Linked DNA regions of Homo sapiens: region 2 is linked to region 1. The links come from fine-mapping of genetic effects on gene expression. A gene starts in region 1. The other region holds a variant in brackets. All regions are shown on one strand. Distances are from middle to middle.

The links. PIP is the estimated chance that this variant, and not a neighbour inherited with it, causes the effect.
Region 2: its variant is fine-mapped to the expression of PUM1 in prostate (GTEx, PIP above 0.99).

Annotation. Positions count from the first base shown.
Region 1 is chr1:31,063,180-31,068,419 of GRCh38, forward strand. It overlaps PUM1 (pumilio RNA binding family member 1), which reads right to left and starts at 2,538. Exons shown (of 22, transcript NM_001020658.2): 1 at 2,437-2,538. RefSeq lists enhancers at 2,195-2,514, 2,382-3,296 and a silencer at 2,625-2,844.
Region 2 is chr1:30,425,414-30,430,653 of GRCh38, forward strand. No RefSeq gene overlaps it. Among named protein-coding and RNA genes, the nearest start is that of MATN1-AS1, 290 kb to the right of the region's middle. The variant GA/G (reference allele first, on the strand shown) is at 2,957.

The sequences.
Region 1 (5,240 bases):
GTTCTAGAGCAGGCCAAGAGTTCCAAAACCCAAGTTCTTTCACTAAACAAAACTACCTGTTTCCTCATCTAGAAAATGAAAGAAATCCTTCCTCTATGACTCTCAATGTTTTGGGTTTTTCTTAATGAAAATGAGATAAATATAAAAGTTTTTGGTAAATTTAAAGTCATCGTGCTTAAGACTCTTAGAATTTAGTTACCCCTAGTTAAGGCAACTCCAGTCCCTAACAGAATTCCTAAAACAGCAAATGCAATCTTTTCTGAAATAAAAGCCTTCTCAAAATAGTTATCTAGGAGGCTGAGAGAAGGATAATGAGAGATTACCTAAGGAGGACAATGTACGTTATTCCAGTGATGGACACACAAAAAGCCCTGGCTTCACCACTACGCAATACACGCATGTACAAATTACACTTGTACCTCACAAATTATACAAATAAAAATTTTTAAAAGAAAAAAGTTATCTAACAAAGAATATCCACATAAAAGAGGAGTTTATCACTGACGCACACTAAACACACCTTCATTCTAAAAGGAATGGGGGAAAGAAAAGACTCCTATAAAAATGTTCAAACGAAACAATTGGCTTTTGTAAAGCTATCTGTATGCCCTAAGACTTCCTGCTTTACCTAAAGAGGCAAGGCAGTTTCTCAAACCAGAGAAAACCTGGCAGAACAGTTTCAAAGTGAGCAAATACCTAAGCAATTAACATGTTATCTTGGGTAGTTTTGTGGTATTTTGGCAAATACGGCACAAAAATTAAAAACTCAGTATCCTAAATATCAGAAAAGCTCACTAATACGTGTAGCATTTAAAATGTGATTTTTTTACAAATGACACCTTATAAGTACTTTAAGCAACTAGAAGTGCTCAGTCCAGCTACTCTTTCACAGCTTTCAAATGTTTACAAAGTTTTTTAAAATATCACTAATTGAGTTGAATTCAAAGGAACACGGTTTACTTTATTTCCATGGCTCACCTTTTACTAAAATGCTTAGTGGTTTAAAAGGTGTTTATTTTTACCACACTTAACAAACATTCTGTGGTCATAAATTTATCTTAAAACAGTTCATTTTAAACCTAAACTAAACAAATTCCAACTTCAAAAAGCTGTGGCCTTGAACAAAATGAATTCAATTGTCGCTAAAGCAAAACACTAACTCAAAGTTCAGAATCCGGAGAGCGTTTCCCAAGAGCCCAGATAAAGAATCAACAGCCCCCCAGTGTTTTATAAAGTTAAAATTAGCAAAGGGTCAAAATGTTTATTTTGCTTACGAAAACTGCATCGGAAGCCACATTTCTTGGGGTTGGGCCTGTCTTAGTAAGTTTTTAGGTGCTTTCAAGAAACAAAATGCTAAGCCTATTGTTTCAGAAGTTAACTGACTTTAAAACAGAACCCAGGAAAAGCTTCATAAAATCTTATTCTTAATTAATCCCAGTAATAACAGGAATTGAGCAAAATGGTATCGAGGGCTGAGAACAGTGTTTTCTTAATTGAACAATAAAAGGTAACAATCTAAGTTACGGGAGAATAAAGCCTTCTCTGGTAATGCTGTGTGTGGGTTTCTGGCTTTGTTTTTTCAGCGGGGGGGGGGGGGGGGGCTATAGGAGGGAAAAGTTACAGGAGTGTATTCCTCACTTGACGTGGGAATGGTACTGACAAGTAAAACAAATGATCTATGTTTACCAAGCATGTTTGTGAGGACTAAAACTAGTATTGTGTATCTAGATTTTCCTACTAGCAAGGGGTGAACCCCTCTTTGAGTGAAGAGAGACACCAACACCGGGAGGCTCAAAAAGGAAGAACCCACCAAAAACACAAGCTCACACGGAAACAAAAGGCCACAGCAACCCAGGAGCCTAAAAAGCATTCTGAAACTTCCTGATCGCCACTTCTCCACATTTAAGGCTCGCAAAGTTCCCCCACGGTGAATCTCGCCTGTGGACAAGGGCCACGGCTGCTTCTAAAGCGATTTATTGTTCCTCCTCCTCCGGCGCTGCCACGGAAGCTCAAGAAGTCGAAGAAATCGGGGTGGCACAGAATTACACTTCATGGCCACACAGAAGACTCGGGGCTTCGCAAACCCATCAAAAAAAGCAACCCGAATGGCAACATCAATCTTCGGTGGTTCCCAACAGGGCCAGGCAAAAATGTAGAGGCACGTCTACGCCCTGGGCTCGGGCCTAAACCCCCAGCATTTTCCTAGCTTCGACCCCGCTCCCCACCCCCTCCCTCCTTTGATAACAATAGGGGCCTTGCTGCTGACTCCAAAACATGTACGAGGAACAGCGAGTGAGAAGCCTCAGCCAGGGCCCCGGCGGCTTTTCCAAAGCCCTTCTCACCCCCACAACCACTCTCAAACACCAATATGAAGGGACAATCTGCTCGTTAGGGGTCCGGAGCAGCGTTTGGGGCCGGTGGGGTGCGGATACTCACGGGCGGAGCGGTAGGATGAAGATGGATTTCAGCCCCCCGATCTTCTCTCTCTGGCGCTCTCGCTCCCCCTTACCTTTCACTCCGACAACATGGCGGCCCACTGGGGACTGGGTTGGCGCGGTGCATCCTGGGATAGGCTCCGGCCCCGGCCCCGGCGGTGGCAGCGGCATGTGCGGAGAAGGCTGGCGGCTCTGGAACAGGTTGCCTGGTTGCCATGCCAACCCAGGGCCTGTGTGAACTCGGGAAACTCGCAGGCAACACAAACGCTGCGCGCGAGTGCCCGCCCGCTAGGCGAGCGCGCGCCGCCAGGGCCGAAGGCGGGGTCCCGCCGGCCCGCACCTGGGAGAACACGGCCTGGAGCTGGGCACGCGGGGTTGCGCCGGTGACGCTCCACCGAGTCTCGGACGCGCTCCTCGCGCCCGCCGCGCCCTCGGAAGCTTGCCCCCGAGCACCACAGCTAGCAGGGTTCGCGGACGGCCACCCGCACTGCCCTGGCCCCAGAGGTGCAGGGTTCAAACCCCTTCTCTGCAGCTTTCTAGCTCTGCGGCCTTATTTAAATCGACCTGCCTCCATTTCCACATTTGTACAATGAAGAAGAAAATAACCCCCACTTAACAGAATGGCCTGGAGGATTAAGTGGAATAATGTATGTTAAGTGCTTTTAGTCTTACTGTCTCAAACTAAACTCAAAATAGATTGAAGGCCGGGCGCGGTGGCTCACGCCTGTAATCCCTGGACTTTGGGAGGCTGAGGCGGGCGGATCATGAGGTCAGGAGATCGAGACCATCCTGGCTAACATGGTGAAACCCTGTCTCTACTAAAAATACAAAAAAATTAGCCGGGCGTGGTGGCGGGCACCTGTAGTCCCAGCTACTCGGGAGGCTGAGGCAGGAGAATGGCCTGAACCTGGGAGGCGGAGCTTGCAGTGAGCAGAGATCGCGCCACTGCACTTGAGCCTGGGCGACACGGAGAGGCTCCGTCTCAAAAAAAAAAAAAAAATAGATTGAAAACAGACAAATCGCAATACTGTAAAAGACCAGAAGAAGATATGGGGAGAAGCTCTATAATTGGAGGAGGGAAAATGTTTATACTCATGAATCAAAGTCAAAAGATCATAAAAGAAAATATTGAAAGAAATATAAACATCTGTACGAGAAGAGATGCCATCAACAAAGTAGAACAAATGGATAAAAAATATTTGCAGTACACGGCCAGGCGCGATGGCTCATGCCTGTAATCCCAGCACTTTGGGAGGCCGAGGCGGGTGGATCATGAGGTCAAGAGATCAAGACCATCCTGGCCAACATGGTGAAACCCCGTCTCTACTAAAAATACAAAAAAATTAGCCGGGAGTGGTGGCGGGCGCCTGTGGTCCCAGCTACTGGGGAGGCTGAGGCAGGAGAATCACTTGAACCCAGGAGGCAGAGGTTGCAGTGAGCCAATATTGTGCCACTGCACTCCAGCCTGATGACAGAGCAAGACTCCGTCTCAAGAAAAAAAATATATATATATACACATATATGTATATATACATATATACATATATATACACATATATACATATATACACATATATACATATATACATATATACACATATATACATATATAAACATATATATACGTATATATACATATATATATATTTGCAATACACATGATAAGGAAATGGTTGATCATCATGATAAATGCAAAATTTCTCCCATCAGGGTCCTGGTGGGGTGGCTCACACCTGTAATCCCAGCACTTTGGGAGGCAGAGGTGGTAGAATTGGTTGAGGCCAGCAGTTTGAGACCAGGCTGGGCAACATAGTGAGGCCTCGTCTCTACAAAAAGTTAAAAATTATCTGGGCATGGTGGCACACATCTGTAGTCCTAGCTACTTGGGAGCTAAAGCAGGAGAATTCCCTTGAGCCCAGGAATTGAGCTGCAATGAGCTATGATTGGGCCACTACATTCCAGCCTAGGAGACAGAAAGAGGCCCTGTATCAAATAAATAAATAAATAAAATCTGTAATCAATTTCTAAAAATCCGAAATGGGCTGGGCGCAGCGGCTCATGCCTGCAATCTGAACACTTTGGGAGGCCGAGGCAGGCAGATCACTTGAGGTCAGGAGTTCGAGACCAGCCTGGCCAACATGGTGAAACCCCATCTCTACTAAAACTACAAAAATTAGCCGAGCGTGGTTATGGGCGCCTGTAATCCCAGTTACTCTGGAGGCCGAGGCAAGAGAATCGCTTGAACCCAGGAGGTGGAGGTTGCAGTGAGCTGAGATGAAGCACTGCCTGGGAAACAGAATGAGATTCCATGTCAAAAGGAAAGAAATAAATCCAAAATAAAATAAATCCAAAATAAACAAACATAACAAAATCACATACAGCCAAGAAACATAAAAGTAGCCTGGGGTTGAGGGATGAAAGAGCAGAAATGGGAAGGTACTGCTAATGGGTATGGGGTCTCCTTTTGGAGTGTTGAAAACCTTTTAAAATTAGAGTGCGATGACGGTTGCAAAACTGTGAGTATACCATAAACCACCAAAGTAGACACTTTATGATTTAAATGGTGAATTTGTATTTTACTTTTGTTTTTCGAGACAGGGTCTCCCAGGTTAGAGTGCAGTGGTGTAACCATGGCTCACTTGTAGGCTTGAACTCCAGGGCCCAAGCGATCCTCTCACCTTGGCCTCCTAAGAAGTTGGAACTTCAGCCATGCACCAACACACTTAGCTAATTTTTTTGTTTTTGTTTTTGTTTTGAGATGAGTTCACCCTGTGTTGCCCAGGCTGGTAAATTAGTGAATTTTAG
Region 2 (5,240 bases), 640 kb before region 1:
AATCTCAGCTACTCAGGAGGCTGAGGTAGGAGAATTGCTTGAACCCAGGAGGTGGAGGTTTCAGTGAGCCGAGATTGTGCCACTGCACTCCAGCCTGGGAGACAGAGCAAAACTGCATCTCAAAAAGAGAGAGAGAGAGAGAGAGGGATTCCTCTCAGCTTCTCTGTGTAGGTTGGCTTCCCCTATACCCTGGGTATGAGCAGGGCCCCTCTGGAAGGAAGGTCTTCAAGAGAGAAGACCTATGTTTTATGTCTTGCTTTGTGGGAGAGGAGTTCTAGGTTTTATGACCCACCTTGGGGAAGAAGAATTCTGGTTCCTATGACTCAGACTCACTCTGCAGGAGAAAGAAGGGCAGGAGACAGGCAGATAGGAGAAGGTCAGAAAGAATCTGCTTTCAAGACCTTCTGATCTCCTTTAATTCAAAGTACCTAGCATGCCAAAGCACCATACTTTGGAGTGTCATGTTCTGAGCCCCAGAGTGTACTGTGTGTGGGGTGGGTGTGTGCATGACTGTTTATGTTGTGTATGCATAAGCTGTATTTGAGATCTGAGGATGAGGCTTGGAGCAAAGAGATGAAGTGGTGGATGGTGATATGGGGAAGTTAGTCAGAGGTCTGCTCAGAGAAGACTGGGTGCTGTGCAATCCCTGGGGAAATCTTTTTCATGACTGTTTTAGTAAGTAATAAAGGGCATTTTTTCCTGAACTTATAGTAAAGTTAACATCCAAGAAGGTGTCCCCATCTGACACTTTAATTCCTTGTCTCCTTGGGGAATACACAGCAGCGAGCCATGGAGCAGGCACGGAGCATCTTCCCAGAGTGTCATCTTTCTCCAAGATCAGAGAAATGCCCATTACTTAATATTTAAAACACCATGGATAAATCATAGAGAGGAAAATGTGCATAGATTTGAAGTACTAAATTAGAAAGCTCCAAGAAGAAGTGTGCCAGTGGCTGGTTGCTTCAGCTCCTGCCTCTAGGCACCCTGGGGATATAGAAGCCCTACCTTGATATAAGGGGTGCATAGTGGATGCCTTTTGGAATCCTTGAATTTCAGGAAATGAGTGTCAGAGAAGGACACAGAGCAGGGCCACCACTTGCTCTTATTGGGGTTTTAGAAAACTGTCTCTGCAGAGCAGCTAGAGGTGGGGGAGCATAGAGGCCTGTGAGGAACGTTTGAAATAATACAGGTGAGGGGTGAGCGGAGGCTTGGAGCAGGACAGGGCAAAGGGAAAAGAGAAGAGGAAACTGGAAAGATATGTGGGAAAATTGCTCTTCGACTCTGGACTTGGGAGTGGAAAAATGTAGGACATGGGGAGGGAAGAATCCAGTCTGACTGGGGATTTAACCCTGGGTTCTCACTTGAGTGGTCTCAGAATCACAGGAAGAGAGGCAAGTGTCCATTCTGCAGGTAGGGGTAACAAAAGGGTGGAAGGCCCCAATTGTTGTAAGCCACCAATCCTTTATTCAACTAGGACAACTACATTGTTCAAATAGAAAGGGAAACACTATCCAATTCATTCTGTGGGGCCAGTATTTTTCTAATACAAAAACTAGAAAAAGAGCTAATATGTAAATAAAACTGTAGAATAATATTCTTTACAAATATAAATGCAAAAATCCTCACCAAAACACTAATAAGCTGAATGTGAATAAGATTACACACCATAAGCAAGTAGGATTTATCCAGAATGCAAATTCGGCTTAATATATGAAAAGCAGGGTGATGTCACCAAAATGGCAGAGTAGAAGCAATCTGGCTTCATTCTCCTCCACAGAAAACCAAATATATATATATATCCAGTGCAAAGATTGCAACCAGCAATGTCCCAAAACTCAAATATGAGACTGAGACAATCCCTGGGACCACAGAAAGATTAAAAATTCTGAGCAGATGGTAAAAGAAATGGACTTCTGTATCCACAACACCTCTCCCTCAATCTGCCAGGCATCGTGTATGGAAAATTCCTCCTGTACTCACAGTTTTTACACTGGAAAAAGTGAGATCAAGATAAACAGCCAGCTTTCCTGCCATCTTGGCTTCCCTTTCAGAAAAGCCATTCTTGCCACAACCCATGGGAAGCATCACAAGTGCCTGTAGGGAGAAAAACCACTGGGGGCAGCCAGAAACAAAGGCAGGAGGCAAAACCAGCAACCCCACCTGAAAAACTCTGCTCTTTATCTCAGCCAAAGGAAAAGTCAAATCATAGTGGCTGTTCAGCAGCACCACATTGTAGGAGACAGGCTTCATGGGTCTTCTGGGCATGAACCAGCTTTCCCATCTAGCTGGGGCATCCCCTTTTGGATCATCCTTCCCAAACAACTGGATATCCCCTCTGGGACACCCTTCCCCCAATTTAGGATAGGTTGCGCTCTGAATATTTGCAAGAGCTGAGGCAATTCTGAGTGTAAGGCACCATCTAGTGCCAAAAAGGAGGAAGAGATAAAAGATTAAGGGACGTTGGGAGGCAATTGCAGAGAACATCTAAGCAAACATACTCTATACCCCACAAAGACAAAAACAAACCAAACAGCAAAGACTGGAATAAATAACTAATCCTTCAATGCAGTCATAGGTGTAGTCCACAAGAAACAACACAGCAAACAGGTCATAGTTATGACCTCCCCAAGTGGACAAAGCAAGGAGCCAGTAACCAACCCTAACAAGATAGTAATGTGTGAGGTCTCAGATGGAGAATTCAAAATACAGTTCTAAGGAAACTCAGTGAACTTCAAGATAACACAGAAAAGTAGTTGAGGAATTTTATCAGAGAAATTTAACAAAGAGATTGAAATAATATATATATATAAAAACAGAAATCCTAGAACTGAGAAATACACTTGCTGACCTGAAAAATTCATTAAAGGCTCTCAACAGCAGAATTGATCAAGCAGAAGAAAGAATCAGTGAGCTCAAAGACAGGTTATTTGAAAATACAGTGTAAGAAGAGGAAAAA[GA/G]AAAATAAATTTAAATAGAACTAAGGAAGCCTACAAAATAGAGAAAATAACCTCAAAAGAGCAAATTTAAGAGTAATTAGCACGGAAGAGGGAGTTGAAGAAGAGCAACAGGTAGAAAACTTATTCAAAGAAATAATTTTAAAAACTTTCCAAACCTAGAGAAAGATATAAATATCCAGGTATATGGAGGTCAGAGATTACCAAATTGATTTAATCCAAATAAGACCACCCCCAAGGCATATAACAATCAAACTCTCAAAGGTCACGGACAAAGAGAGGATTCTAAAAGCAGCAAGGTAAAAGAATCAAATAACGTAAAGGAGAGGAGCTCCGTTGTGTCTGGCAACAGACTTTTCGGCAGAAACCATACAGGTCAGAAAGGAGTGGTATGATATATTTAAGGCACTGAAGGAAAAAAAACCTGTCAACTGAAAATGTTGTGCCCAGCAAAGCTTTCCCTTATACATGAAAGAGAAATAAAGTATTTTTCAGATAAACAAAAGTTGAGGGAATTCATTACCACTAGACTCATCTTACAAGAATTCTAAAGCGAGTTCTTCAAACTGAAAGAAAAAGACACTAATGAGCAAGAAGAAAATATTTGAAGGTATAAAATTCACTGGGAAAAGTAAATACACAGACAAATTCAGAATAATCTAATACTGTAGTTGTGGTGTATAATTTCCTCACATCTCTAGTATAAAGACTAAAAGACAAATTTATCAAAAGTAATTACAACTATGGCAACTTAAGAGGCAATATGAAAAGATGTAAATTGAAACAAGAAAAAGCCAAAATGTGGGGAGATACAGTTAACATGTAGAGTTTTTTAGTTTTTCCTTTGTTTCTTTTCTTCTCTTTGTGATCAAAGCTAAGTTATCTTCTGTTTAAAGTAACTTGTTTTATTTATAAGATTTTTTTGTAAGCCCCATGGTAACCACAAAAGCATAAACCTATAATAGATACACTAAAAATAAAAAGCAATGAATTAAAACATACAACCAGGAACAAAAATCACCTAACCACAAAGGAAGACAGGAGTTATTATACAAAACAACCAAAAAACAAGTAACAAAAGGGCAATAGCAAGTCCTTACCTATCAATAATAACAATCAATGCAAATAGACTAAAATCTTCAATTAAAAGACATAGAACAGCTGAACGAATAAAAAAAATAAGACCCAACCATATGTTGCCTACAAAAAACTCACTTCACCTGTAAAGACACATGTAGACTGAAAGTAAAGGGATGGAAAAGATATTCTTTGCAACAGAAACCAAGAAAGACTAGATATAGCTACACTTACATCAGATGAAACAGACTTCAAGTCAATGGCTATAAAAAGACACAAAGTCACTATGAAATTATAAATACATCAATTTACAAAGAGGATATAACAATTGTAAATATAAATGTACCCAATCCCAAAGCACTTCAATATATAAAGTAAACATTAATAAATCTAAAGGGAGAGATAGACTTCAATATAATAATAGTAGAGGACTTCAACACCCCATTCTCAATAATGGACAGATCATCCAAACAGAAAATCAACAAAGAAACATCAGTTAAACTACACTCTAGACCAAATGGACCTAACTGACATTTACACAACATTTCATCTGACTGCTGTAGAATAGACAATCTTCTCATCAACATATGGCACATTTTCCAGGACAGACCATACATCAGACCACAAAACAAGTCTGAACATTCACAAAAGTAGAAATCATATCAAGTATCTTTTCTGACTATAGTGAAATAAACTAGAAATCAAGAACTAAAGAAATTTGGAAACTACACAAATACATGAAAATTAAACAACATGGTCCTGAATGATAAATGGGCCAATGAAGAAATAAAGAAGAAAATTTAAAAATTTTTGAAACAAATGAAAATGGAAACACAACATCTCAAAATCTATGGGATATAGCAAGAGCAGTACTAAGAGGGAAGTTTATAGCAATAAAAAAAGAAATAAAAAGTAGGATGATTTCAAATAAACACCCTAATGATGAACTTCAACAAACTAGAAAAGTGAGAACAAACCAAACCCAAAATTAATAGAAGGAAAGAAATAATAAAGATCCAAACAGAAATAAATTAAATTGAGACTAAACAAATACCAAAAGTTGGTTTTTTGAAAAGATAAACAAAATGTTTTTGAAAAGAAAAACATTTAGCTAGACTAAAAAAAGAGAAGACACAAATAAAACCAGAAATGAAAAGGGAAATTAACTGATACTATAGAAATACAAAGGATCACTGGAGACTAACATGA